3 linked regions of the Homo sapiens genome follow. The protein of the gene in region 1 interacts with the protein of each later gene in a pairwise test. Each region holds a gene or a part of one and is shown on either strand. Other genes may lie near its edges.

Evidence for each region.
Region 2: the proteins of PPP1R16B (region 1) and CRX interact in binary tests that used the Homo sapiens proteins (3 or more experiments, as listed by UniProt).
Region 3: the proteins of PPP1R16B (region 1) and CDCA7L interact in binary tests that used the Homo sapiens proteins (3 or more experiments, as listed by UniProt).

Annotation. Positions count from the first base shown.
Region 1 is NC_000020.11:38,808,687-38,815,712, reverse strand, and holds part of PPP1R16B (protein phosphatase 1 regulatory inhibitor subunit 16B isoform 1 precursor), read right to left. Parts: intron 1-7,026. UniProt on the Homo sapiens protein: Regulator of protein phosphatase 1 (PP1) that acts as a positive regulator of pulmonary endothelial cell (EC) barrier function. Involved in the regulation of the PI3K/AKT signaling pathway, angiogenesis and endothelial cell proliferation.
Region 2 is NC_000019.10:47,824,916-47,831,941, reverse strand, and holds part of CRX (cone-rod homeobox protein), read right to left. Parts: intron 1-7,026. UniProt on the Homo sapiens protein: Transcription factor that binds and transactivates the sequence 5'-TAATC[CA]-3' which is found upstream of several photoreceptor-specific genes, including the opsin genes.
Region 3 is NC_000007.14:21,914,895-21,921,920, forward strand, and holds part of CDCA7L (cell division cycle-associated 7-like protein), read right to left. Parts: intron 2,001-7,026; coding exon 1,860-2,000; intron 1-1,859. UniProt on the Homo sapiens protein: Plays a role in transcriptional regulation as a repressor that inhibits monoamine oxidase A (MAOA) activity and gene expression by binding to the promoter.

The DNA.
Region 1 (7,026 bases):
GCAGAAATGTTCTGCTTTATATCTGTCAGACTGACAAAAATGAAAGTTACTTAATCCTCAGTGCTGGAGAATAGATGGGGGAAACAGTCATACACTGTTGAGGAAACAGAAATTGGTTCAGCCTCTTTGGAGAACAGGTTAGCAATGTCTATCACAGTTGAAACTGCCAGGAATTTTCCTTATGAATAAAATCATCAGTATGTAGAGTATACAAAGATATATACACTGTTCAAACAAGGATGTTGCAACATTATACATTTGTAGGAGGAAAAAAACTGGAAACTATCTTAGCCATCATCAAGAAACTAGAAAACAAATGATGGTACATTTTTATCACTGGACTATCAGATAGCCTTAAAGATCCAGGTATATCTGTGTGTTGGCATGTGCTCAGATAAATTAGCTGAAAAAGAAGATCTCAGGAGAGTTTTGTATAGTTGTGTTAAAAAGAAAAATGGATAAACATGTAAATGAATATGGGTTTATATATGCATATGAAATTTATGGAAAAATACATAAAACATTTATAGATTTATTCCGGGGAAAAGGGATGAGTGGCTGAGAAGATGGGGAAAGTTTACTTATGATACACTTATATACTTTGTGTAATTAAAAAGCATGACATACAGCCATAGGAAAACAAAAGCTTAAGTTTATATATAAAAGAAAAAAAATGAATGACATTTTGGTGAAAATCTTCCCTATATTTTTATAAGGTAATTGGCAATGTTTATAAGGCAACATTTCCTCTCTATCCAGTCCATGGGATAGCCAACGACAGCAATAGTTCCAGAAAGAAAACAGGAGACAGAGAAAGTCACCAAAAAGAGTCAAGAGACCTAAAGAGAATAAGTGTCAAAATTTGTATGTTTTACTTGTTCTTGGATGTGAGGAAACAAAGGCAGTTCTGACTAAGAGTCTGAACTAAGACATTCTGAGAACTCTCCAGGCTGGCACAGACTCTGGGGCCAAGAAGCGGAGGAGACTAGGGATGCCCAGGTAAGTAATGGCCATAAGTAACCTAGTGAACAAAATGAATGACCCAGCTCCTGGGGACATAATGACACAGTGCTTTGCTCACCTATTTCCCTAGCTCCTGAATACTCCTAGGGACTAACTCTAATGATAATAATGCCATAAGAATAGTTGGCATGTATCAGGTACCTCCTACCTGCCAAGCAGAGGCTAAATGCCTAATCATATCAATTTATATTATACTATTATTATTCCTGTTTTACATATGGGGAAATTGTGGCTCAGCAAATACACACATGTAACTTACTCAAGGTTGCAGTAGGTGCTGGAGGTAGGAATCAAACCCGTACCTGACTCTAAAGCCAGCCAAGGTCATTGCTAGCCTTCCCCCCTCTGAAGGAAGGACAAGAAAAAAGGTACTCCCTCAGAGTAGGGATAGCCCCATAAAGAGAAGACAGCATTTTTATGCAAAGAAAGGGCCAGAGAGTGTAATGATTCAGTACAAGGACTTTGAAGCCGGATGTCCTGAAATGGAATCCTGACTTTTCCATTTACTGGCTGTGTGACCTTGAGTAAGACATTGAACCTCTCTGCTTCACTTTCCTGAACAGTAAAATCAGAGTAGCACTAAAGTCACACCTGGCCAGACACAGTGGCTCATGCCTGTAATCCCAACACCCTGGGAGGCCGAGCCGGGTGGATCACTTGAGGTCAGGAGTTTGAGACCAGCCTGGCCAACATGGTGAAACCCCTTCTCTACTAAAAATACAAAATGTAGCCAGGAGTGGTGGCGGGTGCCTGTAATCTCAGCTACTCAGGAGGCTGAGGCAGGAGAATCACTTGAACCCGGGAAGCAGAAGTTGCCGTGAGCCGAGATGGCACCACTGCCCTCCAGCCTGGACGACAGAGTGAGACTGTGTCTCAAAATAATAATAATAATAATAATAATAATAATAATAATAATAATAATGATGATGATGATGATGTCACCCCTTAGAGTTGTTAGGAGGACTAAAGGAGTTAAGTAGACAGCACCTGGCTCATAATAAGTACCAAGTGATTATGATGAATATTAAGAAAAAGGTGCCCGTCCCTCTAAGCAGATGCAACCCTGCAGGGTGCAGAGCTTGGCAAGTGGATCCACAGGCTAGATTTCAGCCTCTCCTTTAGCCGAGTGCCACTGTGCCCATCAGCAATACACAACTCTACAACCTTACATAGGTCCTGCTGAGCAATTAACCTGCATGTACTGGCAGTTCTTCCTCCCACCTTCCCTTCCATCAGTCTGGCTGTGAATCAGAATCACCTGGCACACTTTGAGAAAATACAGACTTTCAGGGCCCTATATTGGCTGATTCTAACACAGGTGGACTGGGCTAAGGCCCAGGCATCTGTACTTCTCACAAGTCCCAGGTGACCAGATGACCCAGGAACACCATGTACCTGGATACATGTTTTTGAAAGTACTCAAAGCTCATCATTCTAGCTGACATTCTGGCTGTCTGAGTTGCTCCTTGAGACCAAGCATCCTCTTTGTCAAGTCTGGTCCCAGGCCTGGGCACACAGAGAAGGGGCACAGTGAACATCTGTGACTCCGCAAGCCAGCCAGCACAGCAGATGGCTGTGTGAACAGGCACAACAGGCTGCATTTGCTTTCATGCTTAAGCGGTTTGCACCAGGGAACCCTCACCTGTAGACTTGGGGTCTCCCATACCCTTGCTTCTCAAAGTGCAGTTCACAGACTAGCAGCTTGACACCCCCTGGGAGCTTGGTAGAAATGCAGAAAACTCCATACCCAGCCCTACTGAGTCAGTTTCTGCATTTTAGCAGGAAACCAAAGGGGATCCATATGCAAGTTTGTGGATACGCCCTAGATCCCTTCTCCCTATCCAAGTAAGTTCTAACCAATGGGCACATCTAACCTGTTCAAACACCCTTTGGGGCCAGTCTTCTCCTTCAAACTCCTACAGAGACCCAGAAGAACAGCACAGTCCCTTCAACAGCCCAGACTCACACTTAGCAGCCAGCCTAAGGCTCCAGGTGAACCTTCACTTTAATAAGTTATTTATTTCTAAGTCCATATTAAAATAAACCTTCCCAATAAATTGAAAAAGAGACACCTCTGGCCTCTATAATTCCAGGAAGTAAAACACCCTCCTCTTTCGTACAGAATTGAGACCCCTGCTTTCCTGCCTAAAGCCATCCAGGGACATCAAACGGTCCAAAGAAAACAAGCGATGTCTTCCCGTTGGCCAAGCTTCAAGTTATCAGGCAGATTTCACACTGCAGTTTGACCTCATTAATCCAAGGCCTATCACATTGCTGTAAATGTCAGTGGAAAATAGCCATTCAGTGGGTTTCCTTCATTCCACTAGAAAGGGACAAAACAGGAAGCTGACAAGCAGCTGTGCCCCAGCTTGGCAAATCCCAAGGGCCCAGCTGACAGCACCTATGCTCCTCTGCCCCAGCCTACTTTCCAGATAAAGACGGGTCCTGTATCTACATGGGTAAAATGCAGTGGTGATGGCAGGAACAATTCAGATAATCTGGGCCCCCAAGCACCTGCTTGGGAAGGAAAACAGAGAGCTCGGTCTGAATGTCTTTGGCCTGAGTTACTAATTGGCTGTTCATCATTCAAGTTCATCTAAATCTCTTCTGCCTATTCAAAATGTTCCACAAGCTAAACCCCTGGGACTCCAGGGGACATAAGGCCTTCCAAGTCCTCATTCATTCCTTTAATGCATATTGATTGTCTCCTGTGTGCTGGACATCATGCTGATCACGCTGGCCAACTGGAGACACACAGCTGAATGAATTGGACACAGTCACGGACCTTATGGGGCTCATCGTCCAGTGTAGTCTTTCTTAACCTCAGCACTATTGATATTTGGGATCAGATCATTTTCTGTTGTGGGGGTGCTCTCCTGTGCACCACAGGATATTTAGCAGCACCCCTGGTGTCTACTCACTGGATGTCAGTAGCTCCTCTCCCCCACTATCCCCCGAAAAGTTGTAACAACCAAAAACGTCTTTAGACATTGCCAAATATCCCCTGGGGAGGGTCAAACTGCCCCAAGTTGAGAACCACAGGTCTAGTGGATGAAACAGAAGACTAAAAGAGTAATGCTCACATATAACCATATAATCACAATTATAAGTACTGCAGAGAAAAATCTGCTGGATATTACATCAATATTATCTACAGCTTGGAAGCCAAGCATTTTCCATATGATTACAAATCCTTATGACAATTCAGAATTGTGTTTGTGAGTTACTATTTAGCAACTTATTGAAGATGCTAAAATTAGCAACTTATTTCTTCATCTTTATTTCCAGATGAAGAAATTAAGGTTCAAGGAAGTGAAAAAATTTCCCTAGGCCCCAAAGCCAGTGGAGGCAGAGCCAGCATTTGAACCCTGGCCCCAAACTTTGCCCCCATGTAAAAGGAAATGTAAGCCTGTGTTTGGATGTCCTCTGAAACAGGGAGGGTCTGTGGTCATGTGATGCTCTGATCAGCCATCCTAAAAGATTCATTCATTCCTTCCTGGGGCCACCGTGGGGCTCAGCCACCATCTTGCCACATCAATCAAGCTGCACATTGCCTGCATCAAGGCACATCTGTGGGCGAAGGAATGCCATTCTAGATTCTGAGACATCCAAGAACACCTCCCCACAAAGCGTCTGCACCCAGGAATTTCCCCAAAGTCAGGTTACATACCCAGAGCACACCCCACTGTGACCCATCTCCAAAATGCCTACTGCCCAGCGCCCAAAGGTACACAAAGCAAAAGAGGCCAGATATTCTGCAGTCAGCCTTAGATTTACAAAGTGTGTGAAGAAGGTGGTGAAGGATAGCACATGGCAACTTTGAGATGCCCCCCAAGACGTGAGTTCCTGTCACTTACAAGCTGCATGCCCTTTAGCAAATTGCCTCACCCTCTGTGCCTCGGTTTCTCCCTCTGTGCAGTGGGGGATAAGTGCATTCATTTCAACGGATTGGTATGAGAATTCAATGGCGATGCAAGTAAAGACCTTTGACAGTGACCAGCATCCAGAAATGCACTTGGTGCTATATCATGATCAATCAGTGAGTCAGGTCATGACGCTTCCTCCACTTCTACCCTCTTCTCTCAGGTGAGAAACTGAGTCCCAGGAAGAGAGAAACAAGTGCAGAGGTGGGAAAAGCATCTCAGGAAGAGGGAGTGGACCTCTTCTTCTTCGTGCTTCCTGGGTGGAATGAAGAGGGAAGGATGGTGAATGTATGGATAGTTGAGCAGAGACCAGCCCTTCCTCCCATGCAAAAGTTAATCCTGAAGTTTCCTGGACAACCCTCACTAGAGAACCACCCTCCAAGGAAGGTGCAGAGGGACTGCCTCGGGTCAGTGAGTGTTTAATCCTTCGGGGCTCCCGGCAGGATAGCCTCTGCTACCTCCCTGGCCTTGCTTCTGCCTCCATCAAACTTTCTCATGACTCTGCTCCATCAGCAACTCCTCCCACTGCTCTCCAAAAACATCCAGCACTTTTAAGCCTCGGTGCCTCTGCACATGCTGTTCTCCCGGCTAGGGCTGCCCTACCACCTGGAAAACTGTCACTGAAGGGCTCAACATGCTCCCACAGCAACTTTTGCCCACCTGTTATTGGCAATAATAGACTAATAATAGCAACGAACATCTGTGAGCACTTATTAATATCTAGAAAGCCCAAGCTGGGTTTTTAAGTTTTTTGGTTTTGTTTTTTTTTTTTTTTTTTTTTCGAAACAAGGTCTTACTCTGTTGCCCAGGCTAGAGTGCAGAGGTGCACGCAATCATGGCTCACAGGAGCCTCCACTTCCCCCGTTCAGGTGATTCTCCCACCTCAGCCTTCCAAGTAGCTGGGACTACAGGTGCACACCACCATGCCTGGCTAATTTTTTGTATTTTTTGTAGAGACGGGGTTTTGCCATATTGCCCAGGCTAGTCTCGAACTCCTGGAGTCAATCAGTCTGCCCACCTCTGCCTCCCAAATTGCTGGGATTACAGGCATGAGCCACCGCACCTGGTCCAAGCTAGGTTTTTTATCCACAGTGTCTCACTTCTCTCCTCACATCATCATCTTAGGGAGGTGGCTTATCTGCTTGAGAGGTAAGGCCTCTGTCCATCCTCACCCAGCTACAAGGTGGCAGCTTCAAGATTCAGACCTGGGTCAGCCTGAGCCATGTGGATCTGCTCGTCACTCTCTCTTCTTGCTGTTGCAGCCTTTATCCCACAGTGTCCTCATTATCTGTCTCCAGGCCTGCCTCTCCCCATAGAGGGAGAACTCTGAGAGCTGCCTCATTCATCTTGAAATCCCTTGCTAAGCACAAGGGCTGGGATGGAATAAACGTCTTTTGAATGAATCAATGAATCCTGGAAAATGGCAGTCAGCTGAGAAAGGCTAAGTGGCTGCTCACAGACTCCCCGGGGAAAAGCTGGTGCTAGACTCAAGTTCCCAGGAGTGAGCCCCCACCCCCGCCCCAGGAGACAGGCTGAGAGGCTTTCCCCGTCCTGATGGCTACAGGCAGAAGAGACAGGGTCGCACTCACTCCCCACCCTAGCACTGGAGGAGGTGGGACCTTTGAGAGTCCAACACAAAGGAGGAAATAGTAGTGATGGTGACAATGATCATTTCCTGCATTCCTACCCACACCAGATGCTGTACTGAGCACTTTTTTTTTTCTTTTTCTTTTTGAGATGGAGTCTCGCTCTGTCACCCAGGCTGGAGTGCAGTCATGTGATCTCGGCTCATTGCAACCTCCTGCTCCCGGGTTCAAGCAATTCTCGTGCCTCAGCCTCCCAAGTAGCTAGGACTACAGGCATGCGCCACCATGCTGCACTAATTTTTGTATTTTTAGTAGAGATGGGGTTTCACCATGTTGGCCAGCTGGTCTCGAACTCCTGACGTCTAGTGATCCTCCCGCCTTGGCCTCCCAAACTGCTGGGATTACAGGTGTGAGCCACTATGCTCCACCCTAGTACTGAGCACTTTCTATGTGTTAATGGTCTCATGGAATCCTTACAATCCCACAAAGTAGGC
Region 2 (7,026 bases), on another chromosome or scaffold:
CATGGTGAAACGTCTCAACTAAAATACAAAAATTATCCGGGCGTGGTGGCAGGCGCCTGTAATCCCAGCTACTCTGGAGGCTGAGGCAGGAGAATCGCTTGAGCCCGGGAGGCAGAGGTTGCAGTGAGCCCAGATCGTGCCACTGCACTCCAGCCTGGGAGACAAGAGCAAGACTTCATCTCAAAAAAAATAAAAATTAAAAAAAGTTCTAGGCTCGGCAATAAGACAAAAAAAGCTGACAGCATGCCATTTCCAAGTCATCTGGGAGTCTTGTCTAACAGACCCACCCAAAGTTTGCTTCATATTCCAAGGCAGCAGTCCTCAACCTTTTTGGCACCAAAAACTGGTTTCGTAGAAGATAATTTTTCCATGGATGGGAGTGGGCAGTGCCTTAGATTTTCATAAGGAGTGTACAACCTAGATCTCTCGCACGTGCAGTTCACAATAGGGTTCACGTTCCTGTGAGAGTCTAGAGCCACCGCTGATCTGACAGGAGGCGGGGCTCAGGCAGTAATGCTTGCTCACCAGCTGTGCAACCCCATGCCTAACAGACTACAAACCGGGGGTTGGGGACCCTATTCTAAGGGACTGTACCTGTATTTGATTTACTATTCTTTTTTTTTTTTTTTTTTTTTGAGACAGAGTCTTGCTCTGTCGCCCAGGCTAAAGTGCAGTGGCGCGATCTCGGCTCACTGCAACTTCTGCCTCCTGGGTTCAAGCGATTCTCCTGCCTCAGCCTCCTGAGGAGCTGGGATTACAGGCATGCGCCACCATGCCCGGCTAATTTTTGTATTTTTAGTAGAGACGGGGTTTCACCATGTTGGCCAGGCTGGTCTCGAACTCCTGACCTCGTGATCCGCCTGCCTCGGCTTCCCAAAGTGCTGGGATTACAGGCGTCAGCCACTACACCCGGTCTGTTATTCATTATTGATTAGAGTCTAGACTTCGACAAGGTAAATGGTAACCCCAGGAAGTTTGGTTGCAAATGATTTCTCTCTGGTAGAAAAGGTAACCTCAAAGGTTACAGTTGTATTGTCCTGTAGGTCTTTAACCAGTTTTGTATCTAACCTGGCAAATTTTCTCCAGCCCGTCTTTCCTGACTAAACCTATCAACTTCTGTTCATCAAATTCTCCTTTTTTTTTTTTTTAATGGAGTCTTGTTCTGTCGCCCAGGCTGGAGTGCAGTGGCACAATCTCGGCTTGCTGCAAACTCCACCTCCTGGGTTCAAGTTATTCTCCTGCCTCAGCTTCCCAAGTAGCTGGGATTACAGGCATGAGCCACCACACCCAGCTAATTTTTTGTATTCTTAGTAAAGACAAGGTTTCACCATTGTTAGCCAAGCTGGTCTCGAACTCCTGACCTCAGGCACCCGCCACCACGCCCAGCTAATTTTTGTATTTTTAGTAGAGTCGGGGTTTCACCATGTTGGCCAGGATGGTCTCAATCTCTTGACCTCGTGATCCACCCACCTCAGCCTCCCAAAGTGCTGGGATTACAGGCGTGAGCCACTGCACCCGGCCCAAATTCTCCTTTGAAACAGCTGGTTCCTTCATTCATGACTTAAATAAATCTTTGACCTGTGCTTATTATATATGCGTCAGAGAATCAGATTTGTTTTTTGGGGTTTTTTAAGAGACAAGGTCTCCCTCTGTCATCCAGGCCGGAGTGCAGCGGCGTTGCCATAGCTCACTGCAGCCTCCAACTCCTGGGCTCAAGTGATCTTCCCACCTCAGCCTCCCAAAGTGCTAGGACTACAGACATGAGCCACCACACCTGGCCAAATGTTTTTCTTTTTTTCCCATTTAATTGCACTTTGACAATAAGTGTTTGTGAATGTTATTTTATATATTGTATATGACCAAACCATATATATTTATTATTATTTGTGTTATTATATATTATAAATATTATAAAATTATAATATTTATATATTCAAAGGAAACAAGTATGGTGCTGGGCAGTATGTATACCTCGCAACCATTTGTGATTTTTAAAACAATGCAGATGGCCAGGTGCTGTGTCTCACACCTATAATCTCAGCACTTTGGGAGGTCAAGGTGGGCAGATTGCTTGAGCCCAGGAGTTCGAGACCAGCCTGGGTAACATGGCAAAACGCTGTCTCCACAAAAAAAAAAATACAAAAATTGGTCAGGCATGGTGGTCCGCACCTGTAGTCTCAGCTACTCAGGAGGCTGAGGCAGGAGGATCACTGGAGCCCAGGATTTGGAGACTGCAGTGAGCTATGAGCATGCCACCGCACACCAGCCTAGGCAATAGAGGAAGACCTTGTCTCAATAATAACAATAAATAGGCCAGGTGCAGTTGCTCACGCCTGTAATGCCAGCACTTTGGGAGGCCGAGGCAGATGGATCACCTGAGGTCAAGAGTTCAAGACCAGCCTGGCCAACATGGCAAAACCCTGTCTCTACTAAAAATACAAAATTAGGCAGGCGTGGTGGTGGGCGCCTGTAATCCCAGCTACTCCAGAGGCTGAGGCAGGAGAATCACTTGAACCCGGGAGGCAGAGGTTGCAGTGAGCCGAGATCACGCCATTGCACTCCAGCCTGGGCAACAAGAGCGAAACTCCATCTCAAAAAAAGAGTCATAATAATAAAGTAAATTTAAAAATAAAAATACAATAAAATAAAAATACAAAAATTAGCCAGGCATGGTGGTGCATGCCTGTAATCCCAGCTACTTGGGAAGCGGAGGCAGGAGACCCTCTGGAACCTGGGAGGTGGAGGTTGCAGTGAGCCGAGATTATGCCAGTGCACTCCAGCCTGGGAGGCAGAGTGAGACTCCATCTCAAAAATAATAAGTATTATAATTATGAATTAATAAACAAAATGAGGCATTGATTTTACTCATGTGTAGAATATACACTTGTATATGCGTAGAAAATTCCCAGGAAGGAAGCAAGCTACTGGCACCAGTGACTGCCTCTGGGAAGGAATGCTAAAGCCATATCTTGTCTCTATAGTTTGGATTACTTTTTAATTGTGTGTGTGTGTGTGTGTGTGTGTGTGTGTGTGTGTGTGTGTGTGTGTTCTTGTCAAAAGCAAAAACAACAATAAAATCTTCAAAAAAGCAAACAGAACATGAAAACCCTCTGAGGGTTCCTCATTGCCCTCATTAGGATGGACTCAGAAAACCTCTCACCCTCCACAGCTATTTGCATAAGCCGTTTCCTGGGCTAGGAACGCCTCTCCCCCACCCCAAAGCCCCTCTCACCAGCTAACCCCTTCTCCTCCACGTCTCAGCTCAGCTACTTTCCCCAGAGAAAGCAACCTACGCCCCTAAACTGGATTTTACACACACACACACACGCTCCCTACCTCCTTTTCTTCAAGACACAGCTTGTATTAAACGACATATTTATATGTTTGTTTATCTATCTCTCTCCCTCAAATTCTATCAGTTACCTGAGTTCAGGGACTGGTAATATCTCGGTTCCTGCCATGTCCCCAGCACCCCCAATAAATATTTGAAACATAAGAAAAAGAATTAAAAATGGATGGTGTTTATTGTGAGCTCCCACTCTTCCGTTCCTCTCACTGTCCTTTCCTTCTCATCCCTCACATGAGGAGGGGGACAGATTCTGTTTATTTTAAGTTGAGATTCTACTGTTCATTCAGTAAATATTTTTTGAATGCCTTCCCTGCTCTAGGAACTAGGAATATAGGAAGAAATAAGACCGCAGCTTCTCTGTTCTCATAGAATTGAACTTCTTGGTTCCGTTCCTAGAGAAACCAATAACAAACAAGGAAAAAAAAATTTTTTTTTTTTGAGATGAAGTCTCACTCTTGTCCCCCAGGCTGGAGTGCAATGGCTTGATCTCGGCTCACTGCAGCCTCTGCCTCCCAGGGTCAAGTGATTCTCCTGCCTCAGCCTCCCAAGTAGCTGAGACTACAGGGGCCTGCCACCATACCTGGCTAATTTTTGTATTTTTAGTAGAGATGGGGTTTCACCATGTTGGCCAGGCTGGTCTCGAACTCCTGACCTCATGTGATCCACCCGCCTCGGCCTCCCAAAGTGCTGGGATTACAGGCGTGAGCCACCACGCCCTGCCTTTTTTTTTTTTTTTTTTTTTTTTTTTTTTTTTTTAATAAAGATGCCATGGCCAGGAGCAGGGGCTCTTGCCTGTAATCCCAACACTTTGGGAGGCTGAGTTATGAGGATCACTTGAGGTCAGGAGTTTGAGATCAGCCTGGCCAACATGGTGAAACCCCATCTCTACTAAAATACAAAAATTAGCCAGACATGATGATGGGTGCCTGTAATCCCAACTACTTGAGAATCGCTTGAACCCGGGAGGCGGAGGTTGCAGTGAGCTGAGATGGCACTACTGCACTCCAGCCTGGGCAACAGAGCAAGACTCTGTCAAAAAAAAAAAAAAAAAAAAAGCCTTCAGAAAGTTTCAAGAACTCCCAGGAAAATAAAACAGGTTGTTATGAGAGTGAAGGCATTTGGGGTGGGTGAGGCATCTAGGAATTTGTGTGGATCTGGAATAGAGATTTCCAGGCAAAAAAAAAAAATTAAAAAAACAGCAGGTGCAAAGGCTTGGAGGCTGGAATCTCACACCGTCACCCTGAGCAAGACAGGGTCTCCAACTTGGTCTTGTTGGAGAAGAAACAAGGCACCCTGTGTGACCATAGCAGATTGATCATGGAGAAAAGCAGAAAGAACAAGTAAAACCTGGTAGGAATGTCACGAGAAGGCTCAGTGCTGACAATAAAATCAAAAGCAGCTACATTAAATCCCCAAAATCAAACTGCCTCCAAGGTAACTCCCAATAATCCTTACCCCCTGATATTCATGCCCTGTGTAGTCCCTACTAACAAGCTGGCTGACGTGTGTAACCAACAGGATATTGCAGAAATGACAGAGCGTGGCTTCCAAGGCTAGCTCTAAGGAAAGCCAGCCGCCATGTTGTGAGGATGCTCAAGCCATCCCACGGAGAGGTCTATGTGGCAAAGAAATGAGGCCTCCTGCCAACAGCTATGAGAGTAAGCTACCATGGAGGTTAGTTCCCCAGCCTCAGCCAAGCCATTAAGTGACTTCAGTCCTGGCCGACATCTGACCACAACCACATGGAACACCCTGAGCCGGAATAATCCAGTTAAGCCACTCTTGGATTCCTGTCCCTTGGAAACTATAAGAGATCAGAAATGTTTATTGTTTGAAGCTGCTCAATTTTAGGATAAGTGTTACCCAGCAATAGTTAACTAATACACAAGCCTTCTCTATACAGGTAGTCATTAAATCCCCAGCACAACCTTGGGAGGTAGAGACTGTATTACTATGATGCTTACATTTTGGTTTTGGTTTTGGTCTTAGGGACAGCATGTCACTCTGTCACCCAGGCTGGAGTGCAGTGGCACAATCATAGCTCACTGCAGCCTCGACCTCCTGAGCTCAAGCCATCCTCCCACCTCAGCCTCCCAAGTAGCTGGGACTACAGGTGTGCCACAACGCCTAGCTAATTTTTTAAATTTTTGTGTAGAGAGAGGTGTCTTGCCATGTTGCCCAGGCTGGTCTTGAACTCCTGGCCTGAGCAGATCCTCCTGCCTCAGCCTCCCAAATTGCTGAGATTACAGGCATGAGACACTGCTTTTGCCTGATGCTTACAGTTTAGAGAACATCTTCAGGCTCGAAAGTGTGACTTACCCGGGATCACACACAGGCTGGCAGTGGAGAATCCAGGATTTCAAGGCTAGAGTAATTCCTGAAGGTCCTATTCCCCCAGCCCCCTAACCTGGGTTCCCTCTGTCCTCTCCCACTTCTCCAAAAACCAATAATGTTAAATATGAACCTCCAGAGAGTGGAGACAAGGAAACTGGTGAACCTGCCCCACTGGGGACCATTTGCAGGGCCTGGAACAAAAGCACACACTTTCATTGTCTTCGCCGTCAAATCTGAGTCAGATTGCCTGGCTAAGCAGTTAACCTTCCAGGAAAGCCAAGAAAGCTCACATTTACGATCACCACTTTCTGGGTTTTTGTTTTTGTTGTTGTTGTTATTTTGAGACGGAGTCTCTGTCACCCATGCTGGAGTGCAGTGGCGCAATCTTGGCTCACTGCAACCTCCACCTCCCGGATTCAAGCGATTCTTCTGCCTCAGCCTCCCAACCTGGGACAACAGGCATGTGCCATCATGCCTGGCTAATTTTTTTTTTGTATTTTTAGTAGAGATTGGGTTTCTCCATGTTGGCCAGGCTGGTCTCAAACTTCTGACCTCAGGTGATCCGCCCACCTCGGCCTCCCTAAGTGCTGGAATCACAGGCGTGGGCCACAGTGCCTGGCCAGGATCATCCCTTTTAACGGATAGGGGAGAGGAGGCTCAGCAGGAGGAAAGTGTGGGCCCCAGATCAAACAGCTGATAATAATGATAAAGTGCTGCCTAGACAAGATGTCAGCAGAGAATAATAACAATAATAATATTGAACATCCACTGAAATCTTTCCCTGGGTTTGGCAGCAACCTGAGGCAGCTGATGACAGAAGGGCCTCCAGTGAGGGCTGGGCGTGGTGGCACGTACCTGTAATCCCAGCACTCTGGGAGGCTGAGGTGGGAAGATCGCTTGAGCCCAGGAGTTGGAGGCTGCAGTGAGCTATGATCCAGCCACTGCACTCCAGCCTGGGCAACAGAGCAAGATCCTCTCTCAAAACAAAACAAAACAGGCCAGGCCAGTGGCTCAGCACTTTGGGAGGCTGAAGCAGGCGGATCACTTGAGGTCAGGAGTTCAAGGCCAGCCTGGCCAACGTGGTGAAACCCCGTCTACTAAAAATACAAAAATTAGCCGGGCATGGTGTTGTCCCAGCTTCTGGGGAGGCTGAGGTACAAAAATCTCTTGAACTCGGGAGGCGGAGGCTGCAGTGAGCTGAGATTGCACCACTGCATTCCAACCTGGGCGACAGAGCACGACTCCATCCCAAAAAAAAAAAAAAAAAATCAATCAATCGAAAGAGGACCTGTCTCCTGGGGAGGAAAAAAAAAAAAGAATGTCCAGGAATTCATCACTCGGCA
Region 3 (7,026 bases), on another chromosome or scaffold:
GCAGCTGTTCTGTTTCTTAATGCCCGGTGCCTGCCAGGCTCTGTGCTCGGCCCTTTAGACATGTTCTGCCTTGCTCAAATGCTCCTCAAGGTGGATCCAACAGGCTCTGCTCTCCCCACCGCCTGACTGTGCTCAGATGGAGGGCTAAGGGAGGAGCTGACCGGAGGTCAATCCTATAACAGATCCTAGTAGGAAGGGATGAGCATTCGGGTAAGAGCTACGAGGGCTACGGCAGCTGCAGAGGGAAGGGAAGGATGGACACCAGGAACACAGCAGAAGTTTCATCAACTCCTGGACGGGAGTCAAGGAGATGGAAGAGGGGAGGGAAGGCCAAGAACAAAAGATGGAAATCAAGATGGGGAAAGGGGGAAGCCAGAAAGACAACCAAGGGAAGGAGAAGTGAGTTTCAGATCTCCCTTAGCAACCAGGACCAGTCCAACTGGTAGTCAGAAACCACCTGGGGCTGGAGAGAGAAGACAAGCTCCACAAAAGAATACAGTAACAGCTCAAAGCAGGACAACAGACAAGATTCACTAAGTGAGAAGACTGAAGACAAACCCTTAGAGAACATCTGCATTTAGGGACACGAACAGGGAAAACAAGTGACAGTAACAAAAAGCAGGCCAGGTACAGTGGCTCACGCCTCTAATTCCAGCACTTTCGGAGGCCAAGGCGGGCAGATCACCTGAGGTCGGGAGTTTGAGACCAGCCTGGCCAATATGGCAAAACCCCATCACTACTAAAAAAAAAAAAAAAAAAAAAAAACACACACACACACACAAATTAGCCAGGCGTGGTGGTGGGAGCCTGTAATCCCAGCTACTCGGGAGGCTGAGGCTGGGAAAATTGCTTGAACCCGGGAGGCAGAAGTTGCAGTGAGCCAAGATCATGCCACTGCACTCCAGCCTGGGTGACACAATGATACTCCATCTTGGAAAGAAAGAAAATAATAATAACAAAGAGCAAAAGGTGTAACAGAGAGGAAGAAACCCAGGTGGTTAGAAGGAGGTCTACTGGTGGGGTCAACTGCTGTGGAGATGCCAAATGAGATGAGGACGACAGAGACCAGGGAGCCTCCAGAGATCTCAGAAAGCACAGCTCCCACCAGGCCAGAACTTACAGTGGCCCACGTAATTAAGCAGGCACTTCACTTACATATAATTAACTGCTTCCCTTCCTGGACTTGCCCAGTGGAAGCAAAGTGGGTTTAATTTGCTGCCTTTTTGGAGAGGCCATGGTCAAGGCAGAATGAGGAATTTTGAGTGCCACAATTAACTCAGAAGAAAATGCCACTGAAGGGTAGAGATTTTGGCCATTCTACTACTAGGACACAATGTGAACCTCCAGGAATCTACCTGTCAGAGAACTCTAACTTGTGAGTGCTAGAGATCAAAGTAATTAACGCAAGAATAAGGCTCTCCCCAGCAATTCCAAGAGGACATGCCAACAGAATTGCACCACGGGACCACAGAGGTGTAATTGTCTCCCCGTAACCACACAATCCCTCATGCCTCGCCGCAGCCTCGCCTCTGTGGGAAGACCCTGAACACAGCCTCGCCACAGGTTACAGCCCCAAGGCAGCCAAGAAAATGCACTTGATCATGTGAGGTCCCTTTATTTAAAAAAAAAAAAAAAAAAAAAAAAGAATTATGGTACAGGGAAGGATTAACACAGCAAAGTGAACGAGGTTCTCTCACCAGTTTTTTAAAACAGGAAGACACAGACATAATGTTTCTAAAATAAAATGCTAGACAATGAACTGATATCACCAATCTCACACCATGTTCAAATAAAAGAACATCCAAACCAAGATTCAGGCCTCCAGATGAACACATCTGCTTGGAAGGAATCATCCATACCTGTTTCCCTGACTCTAGTGAGTCAAAACTATCGCAGCTCTCCTCTGACGAGAGGGTTTCCATGGGAACATCATCTCGGAAGCCAACAAACTCTTCATCATCACTGGGGGCGTTAAAGATGTCAGCCACTTCTTTAGGGATCTGTTTTGGATTCAAAAGAGGCAGGATTAAACCAGGGGTTCTTGCTAATCACTTAGGGACATTTTCTGGAGGGGAGGAGAGATCTCATCACTTCATCCAACTGCCACGGTTGCCCAGAAGTCCCCAGTAACCCTCAGCAAAACACTCTTCAGCTAAGAACTCATGGCAAAATAAGGTGTGGGGTGGGTGGGGGAGATAAAACTTAAAATTCTAGATATACACCCTATTTTACAGAGAATGTTAAAACCAGGCCAGAGAGAAGACATGTTTGATCTCTTGACAAAAAGAAAAATTGTTTCTAAGAACCAATGATCTCTTTTTTCTCCTACAGTGGATGCATCTTTAAATGTCATCTACATAAAAAAGATGCCATAAAATATCATTAAGCACTTTTCTTAATGTTCACCTACACTATTTATTTTTCTCTTCTTTGTCATAGGCTGATTCAGAAAGTAGAAAGTTCATACAATGAAATAAGTAGCTTTTCTTCTTTTCTATATTGTAAGTCAACTTAAGTAGCTGGGGATTAATTCTAACAGAATTCAAATGCTATTAGGGGATAATTGATCCCAGAGAGAACAATGTCAGCACACTTAATCCACAAATATGTATCTGCTGGAGTTCATTTTTGTAAGTTGACTATTTTCTCCCAATTCTTTGTTTTAAAAAAGTTCAAACACACAGAAATGTGAAAAAATAGTACAAACACCTGTTGATTCTTTATCTAGACCCATTATTGGTCACTGCATTTGCTTTCTTTCTCTGTTTCAACAAATATTAGGTTGAACCATGGGCATTTGCTGATATTTGGCTGTTTTTAACTTAGGAAAATAGCAATTTAATATGAGCCAACCTAATCCATATATTCCCACACATTGATTAAAGTAATTTGCAAACATTGTATTGATTGGCCCGAATATAATTCAGCACATATCTCCCACGGATAAGGACATTCTCCCATAGAACCACAAAACCATAATTGTACCGAAAATAATTAACATTAATTCAATAGTACGATTTACTGTAACTCTATATTTTAATATCTGCAACTGTTCTATTTGATTTTTATGACACTGTTTTTTGTTGTTTTTCACAACACTGACTTTCTTTTTAGATAGACCATGACAACTGCCTTGTAGAATGTCATGTATTCTGAGCTTATCTGAGTGTTTCCTCATGATTAGATTCAGGTTATGTATTTTTGTCACCATTCTACATAGGTGACATGTACTCCTCAATGCATTGCATAAGGGGGCACAAAATGTCAAGTTATCCCACTATTAATTAGTAATTTTTAAAAAATTTTTCATTATAAAAACTTTCAAAGATATTTCAAAAGTAGATGGGAAGATATTGTAATGAGCACACATTGATCCTCCCCGTAATTATCTGCCCAAGGCTAACTGTGCTTCCCCTGGATCCCGACCCAACTCCCCTTCTTCTAAATTATTGTGAGGCAACTGTAGACATAGTATCATGTCACTCTGTATCATCATCAAATGTGCAGTCTGTATTCACAGTTCTTCTGCCTCATTTTTTAAAAACTTAGTTTATCTGCATCATGATCCAAATAAGGTTCACACTGATCAACATGGCTCTTAAATCCCTTCTCATCACTCCTTTATCTCTTTTCTCTTGCAGTTTATTTTTGAAGAAGCTGGGTCACTTGACTGTGGAGTCTGTCCAAGTCTGAAGTTTTATTTTTTTTGCATCCCCAAGGTGGTGTTTAACAGACTCATTTGGGTTTACAATTTGGGAGTTGAATCCGGAGGCTTTACTTCTAGTTGGCTTGCTTTTGCCAAGACTACTTTTTAGGAAGTGCTATGTTCTTCCTTTGGAAAGCACATAAGGTCTGGCTGTCTCTTTTTTTAGTGATGTTGCTGTTTGGTCAATAAGTTAAGGTGGAATCAGCCTGATTTGTTCTTCGCTTTTAAAACAAAACAAAACAAAAAACAATAACAACAACAAAAAACACCCTTTCTCCTTTGTCACTAATAAGGAATATGCAGAGTGAGACTTGAGATTCTGTGAATAGCCTCCCTGATAACATCTTGCTCAACAGTTTCAGCGTCCATTGACAATTCTTTTTTTTTATATTTTTTATTTTAATAAAGACAGGGTCTATGTTACCCAGGCTGGTCTCAAATTCCTTGCCTCAAGTGATCCTCTCACCTCAGCCTCCCAAAGTGCTGGGATTACAGGCATGAGCCAGGGCACCCTTGAATGAATTATTACATTAGGGACTGCAAAAGAGAAATTTTCAGATTTTCTCTCTCCTTCACAAAGTAGCTGGCATTCTTGTATAATATAGTCTTTCTCTCACTCTCCCCCTTTTCTTCTACCATGTATATCCATGGATTTCTAAAAATTATTATTAAATGTGTTATAATCCATACTCTCATAATGCTGACTGTCCCAAATTTGGCCATTGGGAGCTTCTTGGAAAGTCATCCTCTGTCTTTCTGACATGGCACTAAGGGTCTTTCAACACCTCCTTGCTTTCTGACACAAGCATGGCAAGCTAACCTTGTATGTTTCCTGTCCCAGACCTCAAATCAGCCATTTCTCCAAGGAGCCCTGAAACCTTTCACTGGGAAATGGCATTTAAAAACCAAGCTCGGAGAACACAATGCATCTCGGTTAATTAAGTATCACTGCTTGTAGGCTCTTTGGACAGAGCAAGGATATTTTAAATAGGTAAATCACAAGTTCATGGTGACACCCTGAATTCAAATCCAACACGGAGGCTTCTTCCTCTGCTCCCTCATCTCTCCCTCATCTCACATTAGCATCGCCGTTCCACCACAAGGAAAACCCTCGATTCCCAAAATTTTTAATATACTTATCCATGTGGTGCTCTATCTACAATAAACACAAAATAGCGCCAAACTGACGCCACCAATATACTACCAACAACAAACAGTGCAGTTCAAGATTTCTTTGCAGTTCTTTCTAGCCCTGGAACATAGTCTCACTATACACAGGATCTTTTCCTTCAGCTAACCAGATGATCATTGTACATGGTTATGCAAAAATGTTTCACATGTACTTCCCATTTCATCATGCAGTATATTAAAAAGATGTCCTTAACAGTTGAGACTTAATAATTTTTACTGTTTCATCAGAACATTCTTATGTGAAACTGACATTTTCTTTTTAAATTGAGTGCATGGAGGTGAATGCAATGACTACTAATACAGTTTGTTGCTACCACCTGGATTCATGCTAAAGATCAGCAGTTTTCTCCACTTTGGCTTTTGCACAATCAGTGCAAATATCAACACAGCAAAAAGGGCAAATAATCTTAGTATTATTATGACATTACATTCGCCCTCATGGACCCGTGAAAGGGTCTCAGGTCCTCCATCTCACACTTTGACCACTGCACTAGCATATACAGAGTTGTGTATTCAAAAGCTACTTAGCTTCGTGGAATTCTCTGTGTGGGTGTGTTGACTTAATTTTACATTTAGTCAGGTTCCATTTAGGAAACTGGTAATCCTTAATCTATTTACTTTCATCCTTATTTTAATGCTTCTTGATTAAAAATAATTAGAAAATAATGGTTCAATCAAAGGAAGTGTAACATAAATACAGAAATGGGATACCCCAAGTTCAGTGATGCTGAAGGGTTAATACAAACACTTTCCCACCATCTAATAAAATCACTGCAAGGGACAAACAAGAACAACACTTACAGAAGTAGAGTTCCACTAACAATTTTTTTACCAGCCACACGTAGTGCAGCACTAGCAAAGCCTAACTCTGACATCATTCTTGGGGAAAATATTGAAACTTTTCTCAAGGAGGTATGTTAAACAATGTTTGCCACCTTATCTTTTCAAAGACACCTTTTGTTGTTGTTTAGCACTCAGAACTAATACGCAAGGAAAACACCCAGACTAGAGAAACACAGACAATACTTATGAAAGTGTGCCTATGTTGTAGCTACATAATAGCCACTGAGTTCAGTCCCTGCAGAGGCACTAAGAGGGACAGTGTGTCAATTTCAGTCTTTTTCTTTTGGCCTTCTCACCATTCTACAAAATTCAAACAGCCCTGCTGGCCCAGAAGCTTCTTTTAACATAAATGGTTTAAAGGAGGAGGAGCACCCCATTTATGGATTTAATGGAAATACATACAAGGAATGGAGAGGGTTGGTGATAGGAATAAACTGCTTCCAGCAGCAACTGCATTAGTCCCTGTGCTATTGTGTTCAGCCCCACCACTGCTGCGAGCCTGTGTCTGACTAGCTAATTCCTCCTTCTGCATCTTTGACTTCTGCATCTGCTCCAGAGGTACCATTAGGGGGCTATAATTACTGATTAGGAACAAAAGGAAAGAGCACACTTTCAAAAAAACGGTGTGCATTCCTGGGGTACGCAGGGCTCTGATCCTTCAAAAGGTATTAAAAGAGTTTCAGATAGTCACAAGCTTCAAGATTTGCCAAAAAAAAAAAAAAAACTGTAAAATATTCAAGTGTCCTCAATGCAACGAACTGATTTGTCTAACAGATGCAACAAAGGCAGCAAGATTTATATGAGAAGGACCTGATAGAAAGGATACACAGGGACCTCTTCTAATGAATGACCAGTTCCACAACACAGTGATACATTAGGCCCAAGGATCTGTCACTTTCCTGTTCCATTCAGCAGCGATCCACTGGGTAGCTGCATAGTCTAGACAAAAATGCAAGACCTTTTTTTTTTTTTTTCAAAGTTTGTGTTCCATTCTATTACAATAAAGCCAATCATAAGACTCACCAAAAAGAAAACTACAACAAGTAACTGAAAACAACAAAAATACAAAATTTCTCAATCAATGGATATTTACATTAGTTGAACTTCTGAATTAGGATAACTACTATCTAGTGAACCAAAAAAAAAAGGGAAAATTCTCATCTGAAAGTGAAAAGACCGTTTCATTATTTATAATACTTGTTAAAAATCGACAACTTCATGCTATTCCTTTCATGTACAGTTTCTGTTTGTCTACTCTGTCTTTATTGGAATTAACAGTGTGAATA